7 linked regions of the Homo sapiens genome follow. The protein of the gene in region 7 interacts with the protein of the main gene of each other region in a pairwise test. Each region holds a gene or a part of one and is shown on either strand. Other genes may lie near its edges.

Region 1 (3,616 bases), about 26 Mb from region 7:
GCCTCTACCACCAGGTCCCCCTTACTTTTAGTTGCTGTCCTACAAGTCTTCTTTAGGCTTTTCCAGCAGCGTCTTCCAGTTTCAAGACTTTTCCCTAAGCTGTCCAATTTGTATGGAATGCTGTTCCCACTCTTACCTCCTTTAACTAATTAATCCCTATTCATCTTTCAGATCTTAGCTGATTAAATAAGTAGGCTACTCGCCCTGCACTTCTCATAACACTTCTTCCGACTGTAATTAAACTAATTATGCAATTACTTAGTCTGTCTCCTCAAGTAGGCTGTAGGGACTTATGTGTCTTGGTTATAGCTATATCCCCAGGGCTTAGCATCATGCCTAACCCATAAGTACCCAATAAATACTTCTTGAACAAAGAGCAATGGTTTGGGAAAGTAAAGAGTTTCGTGTGACTGGAGGTTAGAGAGATTTGCCATAAACCTTCCTAAAACCTGTTTATCAGTGGTCTCTGGTGCCCACCAATAAAAAGTGCATAAGATAGGGCCTTAGGGGCCGAGTGACAAGGTCTGGGCAGGACTGTTGCCTCCTGCAGGTCACCTATGCACACTGACTATAGTGTCTGATGGAGAAAGCCCCTGTCCCCACCTTTTGTGATTTTGCAAGCTAGGATTCCCTAACTTCTTAATGTAAGTCGCTTGGACTCTTCAAATTACTAAACCTAGGCACTGGTCAGGACAGGGGGATGGAAACTTAAGGCCCAGGTCCAGCACTGCCTTGAAACCAACGGACAATCATTGCCCTGATCGCTCACTCCTGAGGTGGCCAATTTGAGGCATTCTTGAGAAGACTCCAGGGAAGCATGCAGTGCTTAAGATGTGCCAGTAGATGGCGCTACTTCCCAACGTGCCTAATGCAAGGATACAGAATTACTCAGCCTCCTCACAGGTTCCTCCAGAACCAGGATATGAATATTTGGGCTTCAAGGGCAGGTCACATCCAGCAGCCCGAGGTCTGTCATCCCTGAGGGAAACAGCCTCCATCTCAGGCCTGACCAGGCAAATAAGACAAGCAAGCAATATGGATGCTCCAATGGCTTTATTAACTCCCTCTTTCCGTTGTGGCAGGACCTCATTAGCTGCAGAGCTGGAAGGGAGGCCAAGAAGCTGTGGTCTCAGTACGGGTCATTAAAGGGGTACAGAGGATGCCCTGCATCCCTTGGGACTCTCTTCCCATCCACCTGGAAAGAGAGACAGATAGATTACTCCATCAGCAGGAGTTGCCATTCCAAAGACTCCAGGCATCTTCCCCAAATCTTCCTAAACAAACTCACCTGTGTACAGCACTATGCCAGATGGCATTGGCTGGGATCCCCATCCTCAGAGAACACCACAGTATCAACACCATTCTAGCACCAAACCCATAGCCTGATATGTAGCTACCCCTGCCCCTAAGAGTTTGCAGTCTGAACTGAGATCAAGAGGCCAGGAACCATTTATTTCCCTAAGTACAGCCGACTTCCCTCCCAACCCCAATCCCTCGAGTGAGGTCAACAACGCCTTCTGGGCTCTCCTCATATCATTTACTGAGAATCTACTACATGTCAGGAACTGGGCTCATTTTACACATAGGAAGCTGAGGCTTGGAGAAGTTTAATAACTTGCTCTAGGTTACAAGATATCAAGAAGCAGGACTGGGACTCACAGGTTATATGCCTTATCCCTGAGCCATACTACTTCCCTGAGCTCAATAAAGAGAAATGAGGGCACTATGTCCAGCATAGCAATCCCACCCACAACATTGTGTCCTTCTCACAACCAGCAAGCCTTAGGTCACACCTGGGCCAGAATCCCACCCCAAATCTCACATTCCCCAAGTCTAGGAGGCTGATACATCCTCACCGTAAGCATAGGCACAATATATCTCCAATTTTTGTTCAGGGCATTTAGCTGCTTCATCTCTTCTGGGCTAAAGGTGAAGTCAAACACCTGAGGATGGAGAGTGGGGTTCAAGAAAGCCAGCTTTGTGAGCAGAAGCTGGGGTTCCACAACACTGCCTTTTTAGCCAGGTAGAGTCAGGGCCAAGAAAATGTCCCAAAGAGCTAAAGAAGATAGAACCCATTACCAAGTACCTTGATGTTCTGAAGGATTCGAGAAGGAGTGATACTTTTGGGGATGCAGATCACTTTCCGCTGGACCTGCCACCTAAGTTGGGGGATTAGACAGATGAGGAAAAGGGGTCAGTATTCATAAGCACTATTTTGTTCCCCATGCAGCTTCCCTAAGCTCCTGGAGCACCTGAGCCCTGCTGAAATGGGAAATATGCCTACAGTGGCCTCCCTCCAGATCACAAGGCAAGATCCTCAGCCTCACCCAGACACTGAAATAAGAAATCCCTTAACCCTTGCCTCCCAACCCAGGGCCCTCTCCCTAAGACTGCCCCATACCTGAGCAAGATCTGAGCTGGAGATCGGCCATACTTTTCAGCCAATGCCAGGACTACTGGTTCCTCCAGCAGGACAGGCTCATCAGGATCACGCCATGCACGATCAGAGGAGCCCAAAGGGCTATAAGCAGTTACCTCCAGGCCACGTGCTTGGCAGTGGGCAATTAGCTCATTTTGAGCCAAGTATGGGTGGCATTCCACCTGAGCCAAAGAATAACCCATCACCATGAAGTGGTGACACCCAGCTTGCTTGGCCCATCCCAGACATGCATGTCTGGACCACCCCCTATTGCTGACTCCTCCACTCCCCTTCAGCCTGCTTTTCTCACCATTTCCCATCGGCAATTTCATTCTCTCCCACTGCTTCAATGCCCACCTTTATGCAGAGGACTTCTGCACCAACACTCTGACAACTTGCTAGCTATCTCCCTTAAGCAGATCCATCGTCTGCTCCCTCATGCTCTTGAGCAGACAACCCCTAAACCACTCATCTGCTTGCTGTCCTTACCTGCAAGACAGCTGGACGCACGGAGGCCACACTGAGTATGTCATCAATCTGCCGACTGTTGAAGTTGGACAGGCCCAGCGCCTGCACCAGCCCCTTAGCCACCAGTGCCTCCAGAGCCTTCCAAGTCTCCTTGTAGTGGGTGGAGTCGTAGCATATAGTCCCATCAGCATTCTTGGGGAAGGGGTTGTCTCCCCGCCTGAGTGAGAGACAGCCCCACCAAGTGTGGACACAAATGCCAGGCTTCTACCCTACCTGCCCATCCAGCCACTCTATGTCCCAAACTCCAATCCCAGAGAGGACAAAGGGCCAAGAATTTTTAAAAAGCCATGCTTTTTCTTTTTTTTTTTTTTTGAGATGGAGTCTCGCTTTACCGCCCAGGCTGGAGTGCAGTGGCACTATCTCAGCTCACTGCAAGCTCCACCTCCTGGGTTCACGCCATTCTCCTGCCTCAGCCTCCCCAGTAGCTGGGACTACAGGCGCTCACCACCACGCGCAGCTAATTTTTTGTATTTTTAGTAGAGACGGGGTTTCACCGTGTTAGCCAGGATGATCTCGATCTCCTGACCTCGTGATCCGCCCGCCTTAGCCTCCCAAAGTGCTGGGATTACAGGCGTGAGCCACCGCGCCTGGCCAAAAAAAGCCATGCTTTTTCATCCTTCCAGATCGTAACCCAGGTGTTAAGTTTACATGGAATGCCTATGCCCCCTC
Region 2 (4,392 bases), on a different chromosome or scaffold from region 7:
GTGGGGGACATCACAAACCGGGGCCTGTGGTAGGGTGGGGGGAGGGGGAAGGGATAGCATTAGGAGATATACCTAATGTAAATGACGAGTTAACGGGTACAGCACACCAACATGGCACATGTATACATATGTAACAAACCTGCATGTTGTCCACATGTACCCTAGAACTTAAAAGTATAATAAAAAAAAACTATTAAATTAAAAAAAAAAGGACGCAGTTTTAAAAATTCCTATTTAACCTCCTTTTTTTTTTTTTTGAGACAGAGTTTTGCTCTTGTCGCTCAGGCTGGAGAGCAATGGAGCAATCTTGGCTCACTGCAACCTTCACCTCCCATGTTCAAACAATCCTGCCTCGGCCTCCCCAGTAGCTGGGACTACAGTTGTGCACAATTACGCCCAGCTAATTTTTCACCATGCTGGCCAGGCTGGTCTTGAACTTCTGACCTCTAGTGATCCACCCGCTTCAGCCTCCCAAAGTGCTGGGATTACAGGCGTGCGCCATTGCACCCAGCCTTAACCTCCATTTTGGAAGATGGATAAATTTGTTGTTTCACATGAATTCTTAATTTCCGTTTTCCCCACCTAGATAATCAAATTTGTTTTGTTTTTAAATCACTGGTTTCAGTATTATATTGGTGGTATATTTACAAAAATAATAAGCAGAATAAAACCACCCGATTTGAGAATAATATTATTATCCTCTGGCACAAAATGGGTCTTCAGTATTCACCTCTACACCAATCATCTGATCTTCATTTTTTGGCTTATAGAAAGCTACCTGATACAGGCACTCATGAGAGTTTCAAGGGCTGAATTCATAGGAATGAAAAAAGAAGAGGTGTGTCTATTAGCAGAAGGAAATTTTACTGTCGTTTCCAAGGTGCATTGAGACAAATATGCTGACTTAAATAAGAAGCCAAGATTCTTCCAGGTTTTCCTTGTTTTTGTTTTCTTAAAGGGATGTAAAGAGAGCTATGCTTCTTTCAGTTTTTCATTTCACATCACTTATTTTCTTTAGTAGCTGTTGAAGGAATATAGCTCAAAGAAAATGATGGCCCCTGAGACTCACTAATAACAAATCTGCCAAGGCTGAGTTGAATGCAGAGATAAAAGAGAGAACCAGAGACTTACTTGTTCATTGGATCGAGAGAGACAGCTCTTTATGACTTCTGTTTCCAGAAGTGTACGCTTATTAATATCCACATGTTCATAGTACTTAGAAAGTCGAGTCTGCCCTTGTTTATTCACCATGAGGAAAAATTTTATCATTTTTCTTTCCTGGCCAGTATTTTTCCAAATACAGTTCAAAAGTTATGACAAGGGATGGCTGTAACTGGAACCTTGAAGACAAAAACAAACAAAACCAGAAAGGCAAGATCAAATTTCTCAAATAATTATATTAAATGTTTTTATAGATAAACAGTAAATAAAGTAGTAGTAAATATCATCTGATAATATCAGTCTTTATTCCTATGAACTAATTGAGGTTTTAATAAATAAAAACCAGGCCGGGTGTGGTGGCTCATGCCTGTAATTCCAGCACTTTGGGAGGCCGAGGCAGGTGGATCACAAGGTCAGGAGATCGAGACCATCCTGGATAACATGGTGAAACCCTGTCTCTACTAAAAATACAAAAAATTAGCTGGGCGTGGTGGCGGGGGCCTGTAGTTCCAACTACTTGAAAGGCTGAGGCAGGGGAATGGTGTGAACCCCGGAGGCGGAGCTTGCAGTGAGCCGAGATTGCGCCACTGCACTCCAGCCTGGGCAACAGAGCAAAACCCTGTCTCAAAAAAATACATAAATAAATAAAATAAAATAAAAAAATAAAAACCAATGATAAATTTTCATCAGTTATTCTCCAAAATAATTCTGAGCAACTGCAGTACTTCTGTTTCTATTCATTCAATTTACTCATTCATTTTGCTGGGTAACAACGATGTGTCAAGCACCAGAAGAATGTGAAGATGAAATAGTAAGGACTTCTGATCTTCTGATTTTTACATCTAGCAAAGGTGCTAGGTAGGTAAACAACGGCAGTACAAGGTGATGAGTTATAACTGGGACAGGTCCGCTTCCATAGGTGTACAGAAGGGAGGGACAAGGAACATCACAGGAGAGTGAAGAACTGCTTCCCGGAGAAGGGGCACTGATGTGAGGTCGTGAAGAATGAGCTACAGGGGAAGACTGAGGCAGAGAAAACAGGTATGAAAGCTCTGGAAAGTTCACTGGGGCTGCAGTTCAGGGCATGGGAAGAATAGTTGCAGGAAATTAAGCTACTCACATATGATATAATTGGCTTTAGAAGTCATGCTAAGGAATTTGGGCTTTATTTTATGGGCAATGGAGACAAGATCTATAGTAAAGCTTTTCTTTCCTTAGTGGTGGAAATAATAGTAGTGATATCAATTTATCAAATTCCTCCAGGCCCTATAACAGGCTCTGTAAGGTGCTGTGCTGAGCAATTCTCACAATTGTTTGAGGTAGGTACTTCTGTTATCCTTACTTTATTTTTGAGATAGGGCCTCGCTCTGTCACCCAGGCTGGAGTGCAGTGGTGCAATCTCAGCTTACTGCAGCTTCTGCCTCTGGACTCAAGTGATCTCCCCACCTCAGCCTCCTGAATAGCTAGGATTATAGGCATGCACCATCACGTCCAGCTAATTTTTTAACTTTTTGTAGAGATGAGGTTTCACTATATTGCCAGCCGTTCTTGAACACTTAGGCTCAAGTGATCCTCCTGCTTTGGCCTCCCAAAGTGTTGGGATTACGGGCGTGAGCCACCTTATCAAGTCTGTTATCCTTACTTTAAGGTCAAGCAGGTTAAAGTTTAGAAATAAAGACACTTGGTCAGGCGCGGTGGCTCATGCCTGTAATCCCAGCATTTTGGGAGGCCAACACAGACGGATCATTTGAGGTCAGGAGTTCAAGACCAGCCTGGCCAATATGGTGAATCCTTGGCTCTAGTAAAAATACAAAAATTAACTAGGCATGGTGGTGCACACCTGTAATCCCAGCTACTCAGAAGGCTGAGGCAGGAGAATTGCTTGAATCCGGGAGGCGGAGGTTGCAGTGAGCTGAAATGGTGCCACTGTACTCCAGCTAAGGGAGGAGAATCTCTTGAGCCCGGGAGGTGGAGGTGATAGTGAGCTGAGATTGTGCCACTGCACTCCAGCCTGGGTGACAGAGCAAGACTCTTAAAAAAAAAGAAAAAGAAAAGAAGATACCCAAAGTCACTGCATGACTTTGTGTCAGAGGTGGGCTGCGGTTCAAAGGCCAAGCACATGCATGGATCCATGACACCCCTAACTCATCCTCCTCATTCAGGGGTTCATGCTTGTGCTGTTATGTCTAACTCAGTTGTATTGAATCTCATATTTGTTTCTCTTACACTCAACATAGGTTTTGGAAAAATCAATGCAAGTGAGCATAATATTCATCAATGGCCAGTCCTTCTTTCATCATGACCACCAGAGCTGGCTGGTCTGGCTCAGCTGACAATATTGTATTCACGTTTTGTGATATCTGTGAGAACCAGTGCAAAAAACTAAGATGAGTAATAGTTCTTAAATGAACTTTAACATTTGAAATTTTAGATTTATAGTAAAGTTGCAAAGATGGCCATTGTTAGCATCTCACATTACCATGGTACATTTGCCAAAACTAAGAAACCAATATTAGTACATTATTATTAACTCCAGACTTTATTTAGAGTTCATCGATTCTTCCACTAATGTCCTCTTTTTGTTCCTGAATCCCATCCAGGATACTATAGTGCATTTAATTGTCATGTTGCTTTAGTCTGTTCTGGTCTGGGACAGTTTCTCAGTCTTCCTCGTTTTTCATGACTTTAACAGTCCTGAGGATACTGGCCCAGGCTGGAGTACAGTGGTACAATCATGGCTCACTATAGCCTTGAACTCCTAGGCTCAAGTGATCCTCTAGCCTCAGTTTCTCAAGTAGCTGGGAGTAGCTGGGACTACAGATACATGTCACTATGCCCAGCTAATTTTTACTTTTATTTATTTTTATTTTTGAGACAGAGTCTCACTCTGTCACCCAGGCTGGAGTGCAATGGTGCAGTCGATCTCAGTTCACTGCAACCTCTGCCTCCTGGGTTCAAGCGATTCTCCAGCCTCGACCTCCTGAGTAGCTAAGATTACAGGTGCCTGCCACCATGCCTTGCTGATTTTTGTATTTTTAGCAGAGATGGGTTTCACCATGTTGTCCAGGCTGGTCTCGAACTCCTGACCTCAAGTGATCTGCCCGCCTCAGCCTCTCAAAGTGCTGGGATTACAGGCATGAGTCACTGCGCTCGGCCTTTATTTTTATTTTTGTAGAGATGGGGGTCTCACTATTTTGCTCAGGCTGGTCTTGAACTCCTGGCCTCAAGGGG
Region 3 (4,392 bases), on a different chromosome or scaffold from region 7:
CATAATTTAACACATAACAGCAACCCTGACTGAGCCTTTCCCTCTGATCACTTGCTAACCCAACAGCAGATTACAACTGCATATCTTCATGAACTATGGCCGTTACGTGGAGCTCATTTCTAACAAACTGTCAGCAGGCAGGAGAAGAGCAAAGGAGATACCAGAGAGCAGCACGTCCTTCACAGTCCCTGAACCCAAGAGGCACTTTGGGAACAGCCAGATCATGCCCTGAAGTAAATGAGCCACCGGCCCCTCCTGGGCTGACTCTCATTCCCAACCTGGTTCACAAATGCTAAGGACAAAAATTAATCTTCCACCCCAAAGAGGGGTGAGAAGAGAGCCGTGTCTTCGCAGACCAGCCCCTGACTTATCAGCTGGACCCACCAGCTTCTTCTCATCACTGCCAGGGTGAGGACAATCATGAGACTCACCCGTTCTCACTTGCAGTCAAGAGAAAAGATATACATCTAGCCTTCCAGCAGGATTATGCTGAGCCCTGGCCTACTTATACTTTCTGGTAGATGAAGTCTTCAGTCTGAAACCTGTGGAACTTTGGTCCTCCTGGGGATGAAAGACACCTGTCAGGATGGCTATGTCCTATACAAAGGTATTCCCTCCTTCCTATGCTAGCCCCTGGACGTAAGGCAATAAGCAGACAAGGTCCTCACCCTTGATGAGCCACCCCATCCAGTGAGGACACAATCATGGAGACAAGAAAATGCTTAATTATCAGTGAGGCCTGCTGGGTCTGTCCTGCAGACCCTGGCCTATGGATGAAATGAGTACTCAGACACAGGTATGCAGCATAAGAGCAGCTAGGTTACTGCCTGGCTCTAGTGGCCAGAGAGCAGCCCCGAGAAGCTGGAGCTGCTGGCTTTTATTCAGTGCAGGCATAATGCCAAAAACCTAGAGCCAACCTGCAGGTAATTAACATTTATTGTTCCCCTTTCAGGGAACCTCACAAGCACAGACGATCAAAGGTCAGTTCCTGGTCAACATAAGTAAACAAGCCTGTTTAAGATAAATTCTCCCACACTCCCTTGTACCTACTCCTTGCCCTCTGCCTCAGGGTTATAGAACAGCTATTCTCCCCTGGGGCTCTGCAGAACCTTCTGACCTTTCAGAAGGTTTGCATCCTTTCCCTATAGTTTTTCCCACCACTCTGACCGATCCCCCACAGAGGCCCAGGGGTGACACAGGGGAATAAGCCCTCAAATCTGCCTGGGAGATTCAGGGAAGGCTTCACAGAGGAGTTAGAATTTGACAAGAAGCACCTGCAGTCAGACAAATGGGGCTCAGATGCTCCAAGCAGGGGCTGCAGGGCACGGAACAGTGTGGAGTTGTGACAGAGCAGGTTGCATTTGGGGCCAATGAAAGGCCCATGTGACTGGAGAATCAAATGGGAGGGCAGAGGGGTGACTAGAAAGTTAGGTCCGGGCCAGATAATATGGACCTGGTGGGTCTATCCAGGGAGTGGAGACTCCAAGTTCTAGGCCAATGGAGTCACTGAGGTCTTTCAAGGCGAGAAATTGACATGATCTGGGCTTCAAGTTATTAAGAGTCCTGTTGCAACAGGACACAGACACAGATTCCAGAGGCTTTAGACAAAATGGTACTAGGCCACTGCTGGGTACATAAGAGGTGCTCACTACACTTGCTGAATGAACAAAACAAAGCAAGGCCCACTGAGGTGGTCCAGAACAATGTGCTGAAGGATCCAGAGGACTGTGTGGATGTGAGAGGAATTCAGGGGCATCAAGCAGACATGGGGGCAGGGAGCAGAGGAGGAGGAGGTGTTGAGGAACCCAAGGGTGACTCCAGGTTTCACATTCAGCTGGTGGCATAATTCGCTGGCATTTGGGGGCAGGGGGCGCAAGAGGAGGAGGAGGAAGGAGAAAAGGCAGGGCAGGGGTGGTGGCCTGACCACGCGGAAGCCTATGGAGCTGAGGTCTCCAGGGTCATCTGCCTAGGAATGGCTCTCACAGGCAGGTCAACACACATATCTGAAAATCAGGAGAGACCTGGGCTGAAGGGGTAGTTCTGGAGTCATCTGCCAAGGCTCAACTGAGCCCAGCAGGGGAAGAAGAGGTGGAAAGGATATAGTGGGGGGCCTGGGAAGTGGCACCTAAGTGGCAGACACAGAAAGGATTGGGAGGCCAACAGTCCCAGAAGGGGTGGAGCTGGCCAACAGTGAGGAAGTGACACAGAGCTCAAGGAAGGTCAGGACCTACACAGATAGATTTTACTGGCCACCAAGGTCAGTGCTGAGGTGAGAGTTTAGTGGATTGGGGAGGTGGAAGCCTGTGTAGAGGATGGTGAAGAACAAATGGACAATGAGGCCACAGACACAGCCAGAACAGCCCAGTGTGCACTCGCTCTGCCTTGGAGGTCAGGTGAAGGAGTGGAAAGCAGAAACAGGCAGGGGCAAGGGGGCTGGCACTTTTGCAGCTGGGAGGGATGAGAGTGGATGGAGAGGCTGCAGGGTAGGTAGGTGAGAAGGAAGATCTTGCTCATTCTGCTTGCAGACGTGGGAAGCAGGGACAGTGGTGGGGAGTTGAGGGAAGAGGCCTCGAGCCCAGAACATGCATACACAAAATTCCAGGTCTCAGTGACAGAGATTATTAATAGAGCCCATTCAGCAAGTACACACTAGGTGGCATCTGATCCTGTGAACGGCACATTAAGGACTCCAAGACTCAGAAAGGTTAACTTGCCCAGAGTCACACAGCTGATAAGGGGCACAGCCAGGATGCGTACCCACATCCACCCTGTCCGATCCCCTACCTCTGGCTGTCCACCAGCTTCCATTTCTACAAGAGGAAAGGTGCTATCCACTGAGAAATGGGGCACAGGGGTGGCAAAGGCCTGGAGGGGAGCAGTGAAAGGGAGTAGAGAAGAGGTCATGCAAACGGAGCAGCTGCAGAGGACAAGTGAGGTGAGCTGAGCAGAGAGCTTGCCTGGGCTGCTGGGGCTGGAGGCGGGGCATCTGAGGGCCTCCCTGCTTCGTGGGGGCATGGATTTTCTCCAGCAGCTTTCAGGACTTGGACTACAGAGCAGAGGGTGTGGCTGGAGTGTCTGACGATAAAGGTACTGCAGGAGGGGCAAGGATAAATGGACAAGTATGGTGAGCTGGGCGGCTGGGAAGTACAGTAAGTCACCTGCCACCAGGCCTTAGCTATTTAGGGAAGCAACAAAGCCAACAGGACCTGGACACAAGGGGGAGATAGAAATCCATACTCTAGCAATCCCCGTGAGGTAGAGCAAGGGAAGTGCTAGGAGAAGAGGTTGTGGTCAGTATGGTGACTCGGAAGGAGCAGGCAACAAACTCCTGAGTGTGGCCCCTGAGGTCACTGGCTCATGTAGAGCTGAGTTAGAGGGCTGGAGCTGAAGAGATCCCAGAGCTGAGTCTCAAGGGTGCAGTGAGATGGGCTTGGATGCGGACATCCAAAGCTACAAGAGGACAGTGAGCAGGCCAGAGTTCAAGGGGAACACAGGGCTGAGACCAGCACATGCAGGCATCAGGGAGGCCCTCTGAGTCATGCTGTCCACTGTGTGTAAGGAGGGGACTAAGAGAACTTGAAGGAGATAGCTCCGTGCAGCCGACACGGTCCTAGATACTTCTACATGCTCTCTTTGGTTCTTGCTGAAAATCTCTAAAGTAGGTGTTATCATGGAAAAACTTTACCTACCTTGTTTCAGTTTTATAGAGAAGAAAACTCAGGGAGGCTCAGGGAGGTAACATGACTTGACAGAGGTTAGGCAGCTGGTATGAGGTAGAACATGAATTCGAACCCACACTGCTGGGAACCAACAGATCCAACCATGGGGCTTTGGAGTTACAGTCCCTGGGGATGAATTGGCTCCACCCAGCACTAATTTTGTGCTGTCAGACAAGTCAGCACACCTCCCATGCCTTGAGTTTCCTCACCTAGACAACAGAGAGCAGGTACCTCACTAAGTCCCCATGAGGACTAAAGGCGATACCACACATGAATCAGCGCCCTTCCTGGCACACAGTCCATTTTGAAGGGTCATTTTAAGTGACCATCACTAATAAAGCATCCAGGTGCAGCCTCAGAGCCAGTTCAAGCCACTTCACCATCAGGAGCCCAGAAACACAAAATTAGAAAACAAACAGATGGATGCATTGCTTTCCAAACTCTCAGTGAAACAGGAATCAAATACATTTGAGGAATGTACACCTCTCACCAACCAAACTCTTGTTGTGCAAACTCAGGGGCCAAGTAAGTTTGGATAGCAAGGGATATCTGTATGCAGTGGTTTTGTTCTGTGTTTGCTTTAAACAATACTCTACAGCAGAGGCTCTCAAACTTCTGATGAATCAGAATCACCTGGTGTGCTTTTTTTTTTTTTTTTTAAGAAATGTCGGTT
Region 4 (4,392 bases), on a different chromosome or scaffold from region 7:
CGTCTGGCTACACCATCTCAAGGTCATGCAGAAATGCATTCATGCTCTGCTTCAAGGTCTTGGCTAAAGGTAAGACTTCCTTGCTTCTCAGAATCCAATTTTCTCTGGCCCCACCCCACCCCTGAAAAAAAAAACACACATTCATACTTGTCTAGAATGTCTAATCCTTCTCCCATTCAAGGTCAAGACCAACCCTAGAGTGGAACAGAGACACTGGTAGAAGGCCTTCACCCATATTGTATGACATCATGCCCCCCAACCAGCCTCTGGAAACACAAATGAAGCACACTGGGGCCAATGTCTGGATTCATGCTTCCCTTCGTGAGAAAGAAGGCTAGGCCAGTCTAGGAGAAGTGACAGGCTCCCAGAGTCGTCAGCATCCAGATACCAGCTGCTTGGCTCTCTGAATGGAGCCTCTGCTGGACCTGAAAGTACCCTTGACGGGCAGGGCTATATGGGATTGAGAACCTTGAGCACCCCACTGGAATGGGGGTCCTCCTCCATTCCAGTTTCTCCTCCCCCAGGAAGGTCAGAAGACAACCTTAACCACCACTCAGCTGGAATATAGCCCACCAGTCTTCTTCGAGCCATGAAACCCTGACCTCTAGCTCTGCAAGTGTGCCTTCCTTAGAGACACACCTACCACCCACCTGCCCCACCAAGACCTCACTCCCCTCTGAAGAAAGAGAACTAAGAAGGCACCCCAGGCAGCCCCCACAGCAGCAGCTGCAATACCCTTGGAAAAGGGCCCACAGCCCACCAGGCAGCATGATGGAGTAGAAAGAGCCCTACCCTGGCAGCCAGGAAACCTTGATTCTAGTTTTGTCTCTGCATCAAACGTGGTGCATAACTTTGGAAAAGCCATGTAGTCTCTCTGGGCCTCCATCTTGTCATTTGTACTTGAGGGCACTGAATAAGATGACAGATGATTCATCTCCCTTTTTCCTCTAACACTATAACATAAGGGTCCCATGCTTGGGCTCTGGCATGAGACAGATCTGAATTCAAATCCTCGATCTGTCATTTTATTAGGTAACTTTAAGTCTCAGTCTCCTCAGGTAATAATAGTATACTGCATTGAGTTGTTTGGAGAATTAAATGAGATACCGAGTGTTAAAAAAAAAAAAAAAAAAACTTGGAAGAGAACTTTGTAAATAGTAACTACTGCAGAAATGATAGCTATATCACGACTATTACTACCACTACTATGATGATGATGAGAATGGTGATTACTAATATTAGAGGGATCTCAAAGGAGGCAGAGTCATCTGAGCCAGGGATAGAGAAGCCCTTTCTACTAAACTACTGAAGTTGAGCATGTTGCAATTCCTCCAGCAGATCTAGACATTCAGGCAGGGCTAAGACAACCAGAGGCAAAGTCCACCCTTCCCAGAAGACAGGCCACAAGTGCTAGAGAAGAAAACTCCAACACTAAACCCATGTGGTTCTTTCCTCCAATCGACAAACATTTGTTGAGCACCTACTACGTGTCAGGAAATGTCCTACGCACTAGGAACACCACAATGAACACAAAGTCCTTGACCTCTCAGAGCTTGCATTCTAGAGGGGTAAAGAGACGAGATCCATCTTAAATGTTTCAATATATCATCGTATAATATAATATTAAATAATGATTCACCGATTAAAATTAAAGACAGTGTCATGGGCTGGAAAGCAGCCAGGAGGTTGGGGTAAGGGGACTATTTTAGAAAGCTGGTCAGGAAAGGTCTCTCTGAGGAGTATAATTTGAGGAACAACCTGCAGGAAAGGGCTGGGAGTGGGCCCCATCCATAGTCCCTGCCCCGAGCTCAGCATGGCCAACCTGCCCCGAGCCCAGCATGGCCACCTGTGGCTGGCCCAGCCACAGCACCGCACTTGCTTCATCCTCAGAGCAACAGAGCTGGCCCTCAAGGCTCAGAGCTGCAGCGCAACAGTTCTTCCCCCAGCAGGTCCCGGACCACAGCAGGAACCGGACCACAGCAGGAACCGGACCACAGCAGGTCCCAGACCACAGCCGACCACGGGCCAGCACATTTCTAGGCAGTGAGGTTTTAGAAGGAATGCTTCTTCTTTTGCAAGTCTCCTATCCACACCTGAGGGGTCATGTAAGGAGAACACGGCCGGGGGATACCAAGAACAATCTCTTCTCTGCATTGGGCACAATAATTTACCCCCAAGGCATCCTACTCCCCATTTATCCCCTTTCTCTGGCAATGACGTAACCCTGTCTCCCTAACTCCTCAGGGTCAGCCCCAAGAAGGGAGAGGGATGCTAGAAAGGTAAGACCATCAGCATTTTGCTCTGAGGATTTTGTGATTTTTTTCTTTTAGGCAAAATGTTTTCCAATTTCACTTATAATTACTAATAAAGAGAGACACACCTTCAGCTGAAGATGGGAAAATGGCGTCCGGTAGTTAAGGCAGCCAGAGCCCAGGAGAAAACAGGGGCTGGGCTGCTCTCACGGCCGAGGGTGATTTCAGCTCCTTCAGGCTGCAGCCTCCAACAAGGCCGAGCCGCCCAAGAGGTGGCTGATGCCAGGGGAGCAAGACCACCCTCCCGAGCTCAGCCCCAGGCTCTGTCAAGGCAGCAGGGAAAACCCTCAATTTCACCCACCTCATCCCCTTCTCCCCCTTCAATCTGTATCCGCCCACCAGTCATCCATGAGCCACCCACCCACGGGTTCGCTTGGTGGACGTGGGGATCTCATTTGAGGCTTCCTGCTGGAGGCAGGAGCAGTTTCTTCCCCTCTACCCTCCTCTCAACTACCTTGAGGACTCTTCCCCACTGACCATCCCTGCTTCTTGCCTTCCTTCCCCGTCACTACCACACCTGTCCAGAGCCACCGTATGAGGCTGGATACGCACATATCCAACAAACACAGCCACACCACACAAAGAGGCAGGCAGCCTCCTGCTTGAACCACACGCACAGTGTTGACAATCCTATGTTGTCCAATTGGAGGCACGCTGGTGCTTGACAAAACACAAACACCCTTCCAGTCCCCACCCGTAAACCAACACAAAGGCCACCAAGAATTTCAAGACCCAGAATCATCTGTAGAGAGGAGAACTGGGTCGGACAAAGACATTGTTCCATCCTCCCAACTAACCATCACAACTCTCTGGGATATTCTGCAGTGCCCTCTGGTTCGACACAGCCCACTGATCAGAGCTGTGCGTGTTGGTGTGTGTGAGAGAGTGTACACATGTGTATGGGGGAGGGGGCTGTGGCTCTACTGTCCAGGCATCAAATCTCCCCGGAGGTAACCCCGTCAGACTCTGCCTCCCCCACATAACCTTCCTCCAATGTACCGCAAACATATATTTCATGGATGGTTAAATTGGATCATTATCACTGGGTGCTTATTTGGTCAAAAAAAATTATTAATGTTATCTACCCCCATTCCAATCCCCTGCTTGTGAGGTCCCCTCCCACAAAGACTCTCCAACATGCTAATCCCATGAACTGCGACACACGACAGCTTTAGGGAAAGAATAATGGCGAGAAGAAAGAAGACCGCGGTTGCGGAGAGGAAAAGAGGCTCTAACGTGACCGCAGTCCCCATGCAAAGATGGGGGGAAGGAGCCATGGTGGAGGTAGAGTGGGGAAAGAGGTTAAGGGGAATGAAACCAAGCAAAATGAAGCCCTTGGCGCCTGTGTATGTGACAGAGACTGTGTGTGCAAGAGCGTATGCCAGTGTGTGTGTGGATGTGCCGACTTTGCCCTCCTATCAGAAGGCTGCATCCGTGTGGCATGTAGGAAAGGCCATCGCACGACTGTTGTGTTGCAAAAAAAAAAAAAAAGCAAGGAAAAAGGGAAAAAAGAGCCGCAGAGCCATCAAAATCAGAATTTTTTTCATGAAGATGGAAAGGGCTGGAGGAAGGGGGGGTGCGCCTAGGGTGGGGGGAGCAGTGTGTGGAAATAGAAGGCAAGATCATGGCAGAATTGGGGGAGGATGGAGGGGGAGATTGGTGGTGGGATGAAAAAATTTCACACACACACAGAGACACAAGCACACACAATGCCCAGACGCCAACCCGACCGCTCCACTGTTCATCCAAGACTGACAACCCGTCCCCCATCTCTCCGCTGCCTCTCCATGCCCCCAAAGCTGGTGCCGATGGATTTCTGTATCTCAGTTTTGCAGCAGTGGGCTAATTACGACCAAGCCCCCTCACCAAATTAACCCCTCCCTTCCCTCTCTCTTTTTTTTCTCTAAAAGGCCAATTGAAGAATAATGTGTTTTTATAGATAATGGATTTTTTTTCCAGGAGCGAGAGAAAGGGGGGTGCAGAATAGAAATTCTGCAAACCGGTGACTTCCAACCTCACCTCCGTCTCCCCCCACATCCCCGTTTGCTGTAGCATCTCATCTACCGTTCTCCCACCATTC
Region 5 (4,392 bases), on a different chromosome or scaffold from region 7:
TTAGTTGAATTATTTAGGTATGGTTTACTCTGCAGTCTAATTTAACAAAATATTTGTATTCCTCTCTACCCCATCTAAAATTTCTTTGTACTTTTCTTGTTGAAAATAAAGTGTCTCACAATATTAACCAGAAAATGTTTCATTTCTGGCATCTTAGAAGTTATAACCAAGTAAAATTACAAAGCAAATGAGTAACTTCAGTAGAGGCAGTATGTGTCTAGGTGTTAAAATTGGGGACTGACTCTAGGGGCTTCCAGATAACTGAACATGTGGCGGTTCCTAGAGGGTGATACACCCAGGGAGGGCTGGAACCTCCACACCCCTTTCCCCATACCTCATCCTATACGTCTCTTCAGCTATATCCTTTGTAATTAAACAGTAAACATTTTTAAAATGTGGACTCTAGAATCATCCATAGGCTTGAGTTCTGTTCCACTGTGTACTAAATGCATGGCCTTGGGTAAATTACTTATTACTTCTGTGTTTGGTTTTCTCAGATATAATATGAGGGAAAAAAGTACCCGTTTCATAGAGCTTTGTGAGTTTAAGTGAAATAATAAATGTAAAGCACTTAGAATAGTGCCTGGCACTAGTAAGCCCTCAATAAATGTTAGCCGGTAATAGTATAGCAATAAATAATAGTTACAGCTATTTCCAGCTACTAGAGGAATTATATATTAGTTATCATATATATAGAAAGGATTACAGATAGATATAAACATGAGCAGCACCATTTTAAGAGGGCCCTGGATATTCCTACTTTTGGAGGTCCAATTCCGCTTTATATCAAATATACTTAAAATGCAATTATACCCCACATTAAATAAACATTTTATGTAACTTTAAAGAAATGGGTTTTTTTTTTGGCTATTTGACATATTTTGTGGACATTGAATTAAAAACATTAATTTTGATTTTTTTGTTGTATTCTCCTGAGATCATACAGCAATTAAACGATGAAGCGTGAGCTAGAATTCTGGTCTCCTGGCTTATAATCAAATTGTTCCAAGAGAAAAGATGAAAATTATTGTTTTTCCACCAAGAAAGAACTGCTGGAGTCTAGTCCACTTTAAAACCTAATTCAAGCTGGAGTGCCTTTTGCTAAAATTAACACTCCAGAATGCTCAAAACTCTGAAAATAATATTGAATGTTTCCTTTCTTTATTCTTTTCTTAGATTGTGGTTTGAATGTTCATAAGCAGTGTTCCAAGATGGTCCCAAATGACTGTAAGCCAGACTTGAAGCATGTCAAAAAGGTGTACAGCTGTGACCTTACGACGCTCGTGAAAGCACATACCACTAAGCGGCCAATGGTGGTAGACATGTGCATCAGGGAGATTGAGTCTAGAGGTGAGCCATTTGCAGTGCGGGTTGCAGTGGTCTCCGTTCACTACCAGTACCAATCCTGATGCCTTTTGGGTACCTCATTGCACAATACGGTTGTCTTCTGTAATTTGGAGGGGAATGGTTTCATATGTCAAATGATCTCAAAGACTGAAATGAATTAATTTAACAATTAAATAGCTTGATTTCAAGGTACATTTAACTAAGTGTAGCCAATGTGCTTGTATAAAAATATATTTATAGATGATGCTTCCAGTCTGCAAAAGTTGACAGGTAAAGACAAATTCATTTTTCAGTTTTTAAATTTTTCTTTGGTTCAAAAAGCAAAAGTATAAATGCTCTACTAAAACTATCTATAAAGCCAAAAACAGAGCTGCATCCTAATTATTCTTTCCCACTTGAGAAAAACAGGCCTATATTTTATCTTAGTCTTCTGTTATGTAAAAGAATTTATGATGTAATTGGGGTGATGAATTATTTCCCTTAAGACTTAACATATTTCACTTAATTAGACCAAATGATGAGCCAGATGATATTCAGGTGACAATAGGTAAGAGTTAAAGAACTGTGTGTGAAATCGTTTTATTCTAGGAGAAGAGTGTGAAAAGATTTCTAAACATGTATATTTTATTTCTTCTGACACATTACCTCCCAGCTTAAAGTGTGAGGAGTTAAAATCTGAAGAAAAGGCATAATTCAAAGAAACTAACTAGTTTTATTTTTCAGGTCTTAATTCTGAAGGACTATACCGAGTATCAGGATTTAGTGACCTAATTGAAGATGTCAAGATGGCTTTCGACAGAGGTATGTTTTTCACAATGTTCCATAACTTAGGACAATAATACTCTTTTCTAAAAAGGCACAATTTCTTGTGAGGTATTTTTTGCATTATTTTTCTAAATCATTGATGATTATTATACCAAATTAAAAAACTTAGCTTATAATTTCTTCTTTTTTCTGAGTTGTAAGTATTAAACAGTCAAATTTCAGAATATGAAAGAAGTATAAAATTAAACTATGTTACCAATATTTGAGTATCCAAGGCTGGTCCATGTTCACCAAAATACATACAGAGCAATTACATTCACCAAAAATGATAGAGAAAAGAGTAGGATCTATACCATTACAGATTTCAGGCTTCTCAGGCTTGAGTTAACCCACCTTACCCTGCCTGTCATCCATGCCCCGCTGGCATCCTCATCACCATCTTCGATTAGCTGAGTGAGACCCAAGCCCGGACTCAAGTTTTGGGGCCAGAAAGCTGAAAGAAGCTTTAGGGGCCTTCTGTGGGGGACCCATCAGCCACTGTAGGAGAAGGGGCCCAGTCAAAGAAAAGCTCAGTGGAGCTTAATTTTCTTAGCTAACATTTAAATTAAGATTTGCTTCCATGGCTCTCCAATTTGTCTTTGCTTCAAGGACTAGAACAAGGTGGTTCCAAAGAAGACCTGTAGCCTTGAATACAGGAAGTAAAGGAGTAAGAGTTAGTGATCTTTTAAAGAACCACTTTCCTTTGCAAGTACGTATTCTAGTTCTATCACACAAACCTCTCCCATTCACAGACCTCTTGTAGGCAACAGAGGCAGAAAGCAAAAGTAATTAAATATTCATTACCAACCTGAGGGAAACTAGGCCAGCCCATGTATGTGATAAGAGCAAAGAAAGGGAGGTGAATTAATGGTGTATTCACTCCAAATAAGCATCAGGAAGAGCAGTCCTGAATCCCTGCCAGATTGAATGGGAAGAAGCATCTCTTTACTCTGGAAGCTCTGCAACTGAGCATGTCCATTCCCAGCCTCTGGCTATGAGTCTCAAAAATAAATTCACACTGACAAAGAAACTGAATGTTCCTATGGACCCCAGAGAGCAAAGAAATGACACAGTTTCCTGTATAGAAAATATGAGACAACCATTTTGTGACCTGAAAACACCAGTAACAGATTTTAAAATTCATGAAGAGCTCACCTTGGCTCCCTGTAGCCACACTGCTGGGGGCCAGTCTTTGGCCTCCCAAGGATGTGTACCAGCACTCATCTGCAAGATCTATAGTAATGATGCAAAGGATTTTAACATGGATTACAGGAAACCAGTGACTCGGATCATTAAAATCAGTTCTATATATAAATGCTGCCCAATTCCATGCATGTTCAAAGGAATAATCCTATACCTTTGAATAAACAGAGCAAAATAATTTGGAGTAATTAAGGATGATCACTTCTGAGAGGCATAAACCTCAAGTAATGAGATCCAAGAAAGAAGACAATATCCATAGGATGCTGGAATGAACTCATTTAAGAGCCAAGGTGAAAAGGCAAGTTTGGGGAAATCTTCCCCAGCTTAGGAAATAGTGACTGAATGGAAAGCTGACTATTCTGAGGTCAGCAGTTGCCATTATACCTCTGCTACATTTTGTCCTTTGGTGGAATCACAGATATTTATGTGACAGGTACAGTGAGAGATCCATGGTCAAAACAAATAAAATCTCATCAGCTTTACCCCAGAAGAATCCTAGTCTGCTGGAGGCAAGAGCAGAAAGTAAAGAAACAATCAGGAAACAGAGATGTTATAGACGTCTTGCTGATATGGTATAGCCCTACTTAGAATGTAGTATGTGGATATCAGATTCCAGGATTTGTTTACATTATTTTAAAACAGAAAATAAGTAAATAGATAATACAGATGGAAGAATATATTTGTGTATTTGTGTATACTTACTAAAAAGCAGGTTTTAAAAGAACCAGTTTAATAACAACGTACATAGTAAGCCCCGGCATGTTACTCTTTTAGGCCCCTAGCTTGTTTAAATCTATTTTCCATTGATTGGTTAACTCAAAAATATTAAGCAGCTACTATATGCCAGGCACCATGTTCTTTAGAACATTTATAGAGCATAGACGAGGTGCCATGAATCCTGCCGAGCACTTTAGATATGATGGTTAACCATGTACGCTTGGTCCTTGCACTCATGGAGGGCTCACATTAAATAATAATCACACAGTGGCTATTGATTTTATTTTAATAAGGGCTATAAAGGAAAATATTAATAACTGG
Region 6 (4,392 bases), on a different chromosome or scaffold from region 7:
TGTACTTGGAGCTAGGAAAAGGGAATTCAAACTCATCTGTGTCACCCACAAGCTGCGTAACTTAGGGTCAATGTTGTATTTTCTCTTAGCTTCACTTTCTCTTGTCTGGAATCAGGCACAGTCACACCTACTGCTCAGAAAGGTCAGTCACATCAGGACATGCCGCAGGCTTATTATATGTCACCTTGGTCTCGTACTTCCCTGTGCCTTCCGTGTTCAGCATGAAGCCAGGCACATAGTAGGTATTCAATAAATGCTTGTGGATGGATTGGTTGACATCCTCAATATATGCAGTGAGGGGGCCCTACTCTCTGTCCCCAAGAAGTGGCCAGTCTCCTAATGTAGCACGAACTCTAATTACCACTCCAAAATGATTATAATTGATACTATGTATTGAGTGCTTACTATGTGTAAGGCATATGCTAAGCATTCTACTCATCTCCCTCAGTCTTTGGGACAACCCTGTAAGGTACTGTTATTGTGACCATTGAACAGATGAGGGGACTGAGGCTCAGAGAGATGAAATGGCTTGCTCAAGTGCACACAGCTAGAAGCTCAGGGACTGAGACTCAAACCCTTCCAAAGCCCATAAGCCCTATACTTTTCTGCTCCTGAAATTTAGACTGGGAGATACTTGTGCCCTCCTCCGGCGTCCCTAGTCCTAGGAATGGATCAGAGATACTTTTACACCAGCCTTGGATTTGAGAACCCAGTGGGTCCAGAAGTTCCCACTAGATGAAACTAGGGTAGCTTTTCATCAGCTCTGCCCTGCCCAAGTGTGGAATTTGTTAAGGTTCTGCTTGGTTCATTTCTACTACTGCTTCTAGAACCTTGCATTCACTTCTTGGGTAGTTCTGACCTTCCTGCCTCCCATCTTATTCAGTACAAATCCCTTCTCTGCCCTTGACTTGCCATAAGATCTGAGACAACACACTTGTCCTCCGGGTTCCCTTCAGGTCAGGGCCAGTGAGAGACTGCCATCTTCTGCCCCCAGGCTCCTGGGGTAGGGCTTGAAAGGGAGAAAAGGTGGAGTAAGGCCAGTTTTCCACCTCCCGGGTGTCCCTGGGCTAGACATCCCAGCTTGGCATTTGCTCTGCACTTGCTGAGAATAAAAACAAGAGTAATAACAACTCTCCTTGCTGGGTGCTGAGCGCTTGACAAAAGCACCATCTCATCTGATTATCATAATAAACCAACAGATAAGTATAATTATTAGCCCCGTTTTACAGAGAAGGAAACTGAGTTCCAGGGAGGCAAAGTGACTTGCCTGAGCTCACAGCTAGTAAATGGTGAGGTTGGGATCTTAACTCATGGACTGCTTAATACAGAGCCTGAATCTAACCATTAACCTATTCATCTCTGTTGTTCCTCAAGGGTCAGGATGTGAAGCTGTCATCTCTGGAGTTTCTGCACCTAGAACAAGGTTTGGTGCAGAGCAGATGCTCTGGAAAAGTTTGTTCAACAGTCCAGGAGCAACATTTGCCCTCTGTTTTGAGATGACTCTGTTAGGCCCAGTGGAATCCCATGGGACTCACTGTGAGCTTCGCACTGTGCTGCGTACTTGACTTGCACTATTTCCTTTTATCCTCACAACTGCCCCAGAAGGTAAGGTAATGTTATTATTCCCATTTCACAGTAAAAGAAACGGACACACCGAGTGTTGAAGGGACCTGCTTAATTCAAGGTTGGATGGGACTCTTGGGAGTTGTGGGCAGAGCTTCCTTTGTAGACCTGTTCCTCTATCCAGTGCCCTCCTGTCCCCACTGTGCACATATATCCCTTACCTTTCCAGTCCAGCCAACACCCTTCCAGATACAGAAATACACAAGGATCCAGGCGATGGCCAGCGTGATGGCCAGTGGCCAGCGGATCTGACCTGGCTTATCCAGCCCGTCCGTCATCTGATGCATGTTGCGCCTGGTCAAACAGTGGAGGGAGGAGAAAGTTACACAGAGCTGGTGGGAGCCGGAGTGACCCAGGGGTGCCCAGGGCATGGCCACAGATGATATCCCCGCCCTAGAACTGTGCTGACACCGTCATCACCGTGATTCAAGAGGTAGCTGGGGACTGTGAGGCCCATTATACTAATCAGTAGAAAGTGCTGTTTGGTCAAGAGATCAAAGAGAACAGGACCTGCCAGGGCCTTAGTCAGCCACCACTACTGCTCATCTGGATGGCCCAGTGGCCTCCTAGTGGGACCCTGCCTTCAGTTTTGCTCTATCCCCTCTCCAGCCCCAGAGAGCCTTCTAAATTGCAAGTCTGATCATGTCACTCCTCTGCTTACTGCGATGAATAGCACCCGCTTGTTCTCAGAATGAAGCCCAAACTCCCTGGCCAGCCTTTCAAGGCCCTTGCATCTCTCTCTCCTCTCAGCACTCACTGCAGCTGTTTGCCGGTGCCTGGCCTGACCTCATCTGCCTCCCAGCCTTCACACTGTTTCTCTCCAGCACCTGCCTGCCCTGCAGTTTTCTCTTCTAGATGCCACTCCCGACCTGGGGTGGTCCAGGGGACTCCCTGAGGTCCCCGCAGCCCAGCTGCCTGGGCTTCCCTCCTCTCCGCATTGGCCGCCTGGTGGTGCCATTGCCTGTCTGCATGTCCGTGCCTGTCATCAGTTGGCACATAGTAGGAGATCAAGAAGTGTTTACTGAATAAATGGTTGAATGAAAAGTCCGAACGTGCCTGAGAGCAGCATGCGGGAGATGCCAGAAAGCAGAACCCACCAGAGCAGAATTTGATTTTTATTTGTAAAGAAACAGTGTAACCATGGACATTGGCCATGAAGAGATCAGGCAACTCTGATTCTGACAGTGCCTGAGAACAGCTCCTCCTGGGAGCTTATCCAAGGTGCTCTGAGACCTTCTAGACTGCTCCCGGATCCTTCTGAGCTGTCCAGCATGGATGCTTCCTTCATGCCAGAGAGATTTGGGCCCCAGCACCTCATTGTGTCACATCAGTGACCCCCGACACACATCTCTACAAGGTACTCCCCTGAAGATACAATCAGCACGGCCTTCACTATGGCCAGAGTGTGTGTGCATGTTTATTCCGAGTGACTCTAGGTTCGTAAGTAGATCAGGCTGGTTTTCAGGATGAATCAGGATGTGGTCAACCTCTCCAGGTGATTCTAATTGGCTATGCTGGTTATTCCCCTCCGTTTGCCTCTCTGATCCACTCTTCCCCTTGACCACTCTGTGCCAGGCCCCAGGATGCTGACGACTATGGCCACATTATCTGGTCCCCTGCCCTCTGGCTTCTAGCTGGGTTTGACCATTGGGAGGAGCTGGCAGGAGATTAGAGGCAGAGATGTTGGGGAATGTATTCTTCCTGCTGGACCTTGGCTTTGTGAGTAGCTGGGTTTTGCTATCAAAGGTCAGAGTTTGTGTGTCTCATGGCTCTATCTGTGGTCCAACTCTTTTTGGGGAGAAAAGGTCTTCAGCATCCCTTGTGGCTGCCTTAGCCCTGCCACAACTCTGCAAGTATAGTCATGTGTCACTTAACAACAGGGATATGTTCTGAGAAATGCGTTCTTAAGCAATTTTGTTGTTGTGTGCATATCATAGCGTGTACTTGCACAAACCTAGATGGTCTAGCCTGCTACACTCCTATGCCATACGGTGTGGCCTATTGCTCCTAGACTACAAACCTGTACAGCACATGACTGTACTGAATATTGTACGCAACTGTAACACAATGCATTTCGGTACTAGACATGTCTAGACGTAGAAAAGGTAAAGTAAAAATATGGTATTATAATCTTATGGGACCATCGTTGCATATGTGGTCCACTGATGACCAAAATGTCATGATGTGACACATGACTGTAGCCCCTTTATCCACCTCTTCTGTTACCCCTCCGAGGGGCCTCTGTCTCCTGCCGGGCTCTGGCTGACATGCCCCGTCCCTGCCATCCCCTGATGGCCCCATACTCACTCCCAGAACTCCACCACAGCGCTGGTCATGTTGGTAGTGTTGACCATGCTGTAGTTGGAGAAGCAGCGGTCTGTGTTCCAGGGGTTGTCGCACTGTTTCCACGGCAGTGTCTGCAAGGACACAGTCATGAGGACGCATCCTGCTGGGCTCCCAGGGGCTGGCATGAGTGGTCCCAGTGCACCCTGCCCACCCTCATGGTCCCCAAGCCTCCTCACACCTCCCCTTCGCAGCAGCTCTGGGAGGCAAGTAGCATTATGATCCCCATTTGACAGATCAGAGAGGGACAGTGACTTGCTTGAGAATGCACAGCTACTAAGTGCCAGAGCTGAGATTTGAACCTCAACCTGTTCACTGTGAGAACAGCCTTCCAAGCTGCAGCCGGGGCTACTTCCCCACCATGTGACCTTGGGCAAGAGACCTTGCCCATCTAACTCTCACTGCAACGACACCAGCAAACACTTA
Region 7 (4,392 bases):
TTCTAGTCTCCCTGGGAACAACTCCAGGTTTTTCTTTCTCCTCTGCTTTCCAGAGAGTTGACTCAAGAACACAGGGAAGAGGAAAGAGAGAAGGAAACTGAGGCTCAGAAAGGGTAGAGGACACTCTACCCTTCCCAAGGTCACACTGTTCCAGTACAAGGCCTCCAACCAAAACCTGAGTGGCCCTGAACAAATCAGCATTATCATCCCCATTTCTCGAGCACTTACTACACATCAGCATTTGATAGTCATTAGGTCATTCAGTCTTTATGAGAGGTAGGCATTGTCATCCCCATTTTGCAGATGAGACAACTGAGGCTCGGAGAGGCAAAATGACTTGCCAGAAGTCACACAGCAGTTAAGAGTTGAGTTAGGGATTCCATCATTTCTGGCCTCAGGAACACCACTCTGCCCACTTCACCAAGCTGCTTCCACCTTTGGAGACGGCATCCATGGGCCCAGTCAGGTGGGGTTACAGAAACCCCACCACTGTCAGCAAGAGGCCCTCATGGAGCAGAAGCCAATGGCTGTCACTAGTCCACACCCCGGCATCTGGCTGATGCTGGCATCACCCTTCTGGATTCTCTCTCCCCCATAAGCACCTCGCAGCCCCTTGGGGCCATGTCCTGTCGTTTGCATCTCCCTTCTGTATCAGTGTCAGAGGGCAGCTTCCTGAAGGACAATCCAGGGCCCTTCCAGCCAACAATCACACATACAGCTTCCAGCCAACACCTACATTCATGTCTGCACGCTTCACATATCCAAGAATGTGTCCCACAGCACTACTTGTGATAGGAAAAAATTGGAAACAGCCTTAATGTCCATCAAAAGAAGAGTGGTTTAGGCTGGGCACAGTGGCTCACGCCTATAATCTCAGCCCTTTGGGAGGCCAAGGTGGGCAGATCACTTGAGGTCAGTAGTTCGAGACCAGCCTGGCCAACATGGCAAAACCCTGTCTCTGCTAAAAATAAAAAAATTAGCCAGGTGTGGTGGTGCATGCCTGTAGTCCCACTACTCAGGAGGCTGAGGCAGGAGAATCACTTGAACCCAGGAGGTGGAGGCTGCAGTGAGCCGAGATCACACCACCACACTCCAGCCTGGGTGACAGAGTGAGAGTTTGTCTCAAAAAAAAAAAAAAAAAAGAGAAGAGTGGCTTAAATAAACCACGGTGAATTCCCACTACAGAATACTACACAGATGTTTTAAAAGAATGAATCAATCAAATGAAAAGATCTCCATGATTATTAAATTATAATAGCAGGTTGCAAAGTAATAGATACAGCATGATCCTATTTGTTTAAAAAACAATATCCAACACAAAGCACCAAGTTTCTTTAAGTACCTGTATAAATACATAAGCACATAGAAAATGACCCGGAAGGGCTAGGTGCAGTGGCTCACACCTGTAATCCCAGCACTTTGGGAGGCCGAGGCAGGTGGATTGCTTGAGTCCAGGAGTTCAAGACCAGCCTGGGCAGCATGGTGAAACCCCATCTCTACAAAAAATACAAAAATTAGCCAGGCATGGTGATGTGCGTCTGTAGCCCCAGCTACTCCGGAGGTTGACGTGGGAGGATCACCTGAGTCAGAAGAGGTCAAGGCTGCAGTGAGCCGTGGTTGTACCACTGCACTCCAGCCTGGGTGACAGAGTGACACTCTGTCCTAACAGAAAAAAAAAAAAAAAAAAAGACCTAGAAGGACATATCCTAAATTGATGCATGTCCCTGGGAGTGAAAGGTGATTAGCTGGAATTTGGAGGTCTTTTCCTTCATCCCTATTGTTGAATTTTTAAAGTGTATTTATGTATTCCTTTGTGCAATTAATTTTATTTATTTATTTATTTATTTTTTGAGACGAAGTCTCGCTCTTGTTGCCCAGGCTGGAGTGCAATGGCGCGATCTCGGCTCACCACAACCTCTGCCTCCCGGGTTCAAGCGATTCTCCTGCCTCAGCCTCCCAAGTAGCTGGGACTACAGGTGTGCACCACCATGCCCATCTAATTTTGTACCTTAGTAGAGATGGGGTTTCTCCATGTTAGTCTCAAACTCCCGATCTCAGGTGATCCACCCACCTCGGCCTCCCAAAGTGCTGGGATTACAGGCGTGAGCCACCACGCCCAGCCCACAATTAAATTTTGTTACCATCATCTGATCATAGTGTGAGAGTTACAAGACAGACTCTGGAGCCAGACTGCCTGGTTTCAAATCCTGGCTCTGTTACAAACTAGTGGAGTGACCTTAAGCAAGTTACTTCATCTATGCTTCCACTTTCTGTTCTGTAAAATGGCACTAAAATAGCATCTACCTCATAGGATTATAATAAGGATAAAATAAAATAATACACTGAAAGTTAGAACAGTGCCAGCACATAGGAAGTCCCATAGAAGTGTTAGCTATTGTTGTCATTATTATTAGTCTCTGGCTCAGCTGTTTGATAATGATGGTGATGGTGCTGGTGACAGCAGTGATGTTTTTCCCTAGAAAGGGTCAAGGTGGTGAGCTCCCCAGAAACATATTTTACCAACAACAGGAAAAGAGAGGCACGAACAACTATTGTTGTTGTTTTAAAGATGGGGTCTTGCTCTGTTGCCTGGGCTCAAGCAATCCTCTCACCTCAGCCTCTTCGAATAGCTGTAACTAAAGGTATGTGCCACCAGGCCTGGCTAATTTTTTATATATATTTTTAGAGACAGGAGCTCGCTATGTTGCCCAGGCTGGTCTCGAACTCCTAGCTTCAAAGAATCCTCCTGCCTTGGCCTCCCAAAGTGTTGGGATTACAGTTGTGAGTCACTGCCTAGCTGAAATTTGTTGAGCACTTACTATGTGCCTGGTATTTTATGTATATTATCTAATTGACTCTTCAAACAGACTTGTGTGATAGATGTCATGACCCCTGGAGCATAAGGAGGTAAAATGCCTTGCCCAAGATCGTCCAGCTATGAGGCAAAAGAGGCAGGGCTTGAACCCTAACCAGCCAGACCCCCAAGCTCCTGCTCCAGCCCTGGCTGCACCAGGCTGCCTGGCTCTGAGCAGCAGCCAAGCCTGCCATGCTCGGCAGTGTCACTCTGCCAGCCTCTCCCTGGCTCGGCCCCCTCCTCCCCCTCACAGATATTTCTGTGATCACAGCCTCCTCCTCTGAGGAGGAGGAAAGACAGAGATGGAAGGGAAGATGGATCACTAAGACAGAATGACGCTTAGTTGGGTGAGAGAGGGTGAAAAAAGGAGGGGGAGGAGGAAAAGCGGGAGAAATTGATGGGACAGGAGAAGGGGGAGGGGAAGACGGGGCACACAGAAGGAAGACATGGGAACTGAAGGAGAGAAGGATGGATGGGAGTGGGGAGGAAGGTGAGGTGTAGAGATGGGATGAGGTTATGGACCACAGAGACCCAGAAATCCTGCCAGGAAGAGGAGGAGGCTGGGCCTCTCCTGCTGGGCTCTCCCTCAAGCCAGTGGCCCATGCTGCATCTCTGAAACTGCCCCTAACACCCTGGACCCTCCACAATCTCCCAAGGATGGCTCAGTGCCACCCACATCCAGGCCCCCACCTTCCACCCTGCTCCCAACACACACACTCCCCTGCCCTGGTAGCTCCTCACTCTGCCCCACGGCTCTTCCTCCATCCCCAGCCCACACTCCCAGCCACAGTGCTAAGCAGGACCCCTTCCTCCCAGCCCTGAGGTGGTGGGAAGACCTAGTGGAAATCACTAAGCCAACCAGTGGCCTTTTAAAAGCCCATTTCCATAAATAGACATATGGAGAGGGGATGAAATGCTCAAGGCTGACCAGCTCCCATGTTCTGACCCCAGAGGAACTGGGGCCTCGAGACCTATGCCCAGCTCCTTTCCCTCTGCAGGGAAGCTAGAGAGTGGAATGGGGCAGGAAGCCAAGGCTAAGTGGGGCTGGGCACAGGAAAAGGGAAGGGGTCCAAGACACCCACATCTGATTCATTCTCATCACTTCCTTTAGGTCCAAACATTGAGGGGGCCTCCACCTCCAGGCCAGCTCTGGTGGGAAGAAAGAGGCGGTGACCCAGGAGGGCCAATGCAATTTCTCAGATGCATTTTCCCAAAGTGCAGGCCGTTCACCAGGCAATCAGGAAAACGGCCTGCAGGAGGCTTACTTAAGGAGCCGAGTGGATTTGAAAGCAGGAACAGAGGCAGAATTTGCACACGTCACGTTCAAACCAAGAGAATGGGCTTTCCAGAAAGCGGGGGGATTAGAACAGACACATTTCTGGCTTGAGAGGCCCCTGAGTCACTCTGCCTTAGAAGTAAGGCGCTGGCCTAACCAACCCATGAAGACCCCTCCAGCCTTTCACTTTAGGGCTTGGTGTGAGTGCTTTGCTTTCATCTTCAAACATACACAGTGAATAATAGATTTTGAATGTTTGCTG

Evidence for each region.
Region 1: the proteins of HTR6 (region 7) and AKR1A1 interact in a two-hybrid assay, tested with the Homo sapiens proteins (one large-scale study listed by BioGRID and IntAct).
Region 2: the proteins of HTR6 (region 7) and AP4S1 interact in a two-hybrid assay, tested with the Homo sapiens proteins (one large-scale study listed by BioGRID and IntAct).
Region 3: the proteins of HTR6 (region 7) and IDS interact in a two-hybrid assay, tested with the Homo sapiens proteins (one large-scale study listed by BioGRID and IntAct).
Region 4: the proteins of HTR6 (region 7) and NRXN3 interact in a two-hybrid assay, tested with the Homo sapiens proteins (one large-scale study listed by BioGRID and IntAct).
Region 5: the proteins of HTR6 (region 7) and CHN1 interact in a two-hybrid assay, tested with the Homo sapiens proteins (one large-scale study listed by BioGRID and IntAct).
Region 6: the proteins of HTR6 (region 7) and SLC6A1 interact in a two-hybrid assay, tested with the Homo sapiens proteins (one large-scale study listed by BioGRID and IntAct).

What each region holds. Positions count from the first base shown.
Region 1 is NC_000001.11:45,567,470-45,571,085, reverse strand, and holds the end of AKR1A1 (aldo-keto reductase family 1 member A1), read right to left. Parts: intron 3,105-3,616; coding exon 2,909-3,104; intron 2,602-2,908; coding exon 2,402-2,601; intron 2,160-2,401; coding exon 2,087-2,159; intron 1,944-2,086; coding exon 1,857-1,943; intron 1,196-1,856; coding exon 1,130-1,195; 3' UTR 1,037-1,129; downstream 1-1,036. UniProt on the Homo sapiens protein: Catalyzes the NADPH-dependent reduction of a wide variety of carbonyl-containing compounds to their corresponding alcohols.
Region 2 is NC_000014.9:31,063,074-31,067,465, reverse strand, and holds part of AP4S1 (AP-4 complex subunit sigma-1), read right to left. Parts: intron 1,341-4,392; 5' UTR 1,270-1,340; coding exon 1,132-1,269; intron 1-1,131. UniProt on the Homo sapiens protein: Component of the adaptor protein complex 4 (AP-4). Adaptor protein complexes are vesicle coat components involved both in vesicle formation and cargo selection. They control the vesicular transport of proteins in different trafficking pathways.
Region 3 is NC_000023.11:149,491,107-149,495,498, forward strand, and holds part of IDS (iduronate 2-sulfatase isoform a preproprotein), read right to left. Parts: intron 562-4,392; exon of another isoform or gene 432-561; intron 1-431. UniProt on the Homo sapiens protein: Lysosomal enzyme involved in the degradation pathway of dermatan sulfate and heparan sulfate.
Region 4 is NC_000014.9:78,173,121-78,177,512, reverse strand, and holds part of NRXN3 (neurexin 3), read right to left. Parts: intron 1-4,392. UniProt on the Homo sapiens protein: Neuronal cell surface protein that may be involved in cell recognition and cell adhesion. May mediate intracellular signaling. Functions as part of a trans-synaptic complex by binding to cerebellins and postsynaptic GRID1.
Region 5 is NC_000002.12:174,809,267-174,813,658, reverse strand, and holds part of CHN1 (N-chimaerin), read left to right. Parts: intron 1-1,176; coding exon 1,177-1,350; intron 1,351-2,070; coding exon 2,071-2,148; intron 2,149-4,392. UniProt on the Homo sapiens protein: GTPase-activating protein for p21-rac and a phorbol ester receptor. Involved in the assembly of neuronal locomotor circuits as a direct effector of EPHA4 in axon guidance.
Region 6 is NC_000003.12:11,019,861-11,024,252, reverse strand, and holds part of SLC6A1 (sodium- and chloride-dependent GABA transporter 1), read right to left. Parts: intron 4,041-4,392; coding exon 3,931-4,040; intron 1,918-3,930; coding exon 1,785-1,917; intron 1-1,784. UniProt on the Homo sapiens protein: Mediates transport of gamma-aminobutyric acid (GABA) together with sodium and chloride and is responsible for the reuptake of GABA from the synapse. The translocation of GABA, however, may also occur in the reverse direction leading to the release of GABA.
Region 7 is NC_000001.11:19,671,157-19,675,548, reverse strand, and holds part of HTR6 (5-hydroxytryptamine receptor 6), read right to left. Parts: intron 1-4,392. UniProt on the Homo sapiens protein: G-protein coupled receptor for 5-hydroxytryptamine (serotonin), a biogenic hormone that functions as a neurotransmitter, a hormone and a mitogen. Also has a high affinity for tricyclic psychotropic drugs.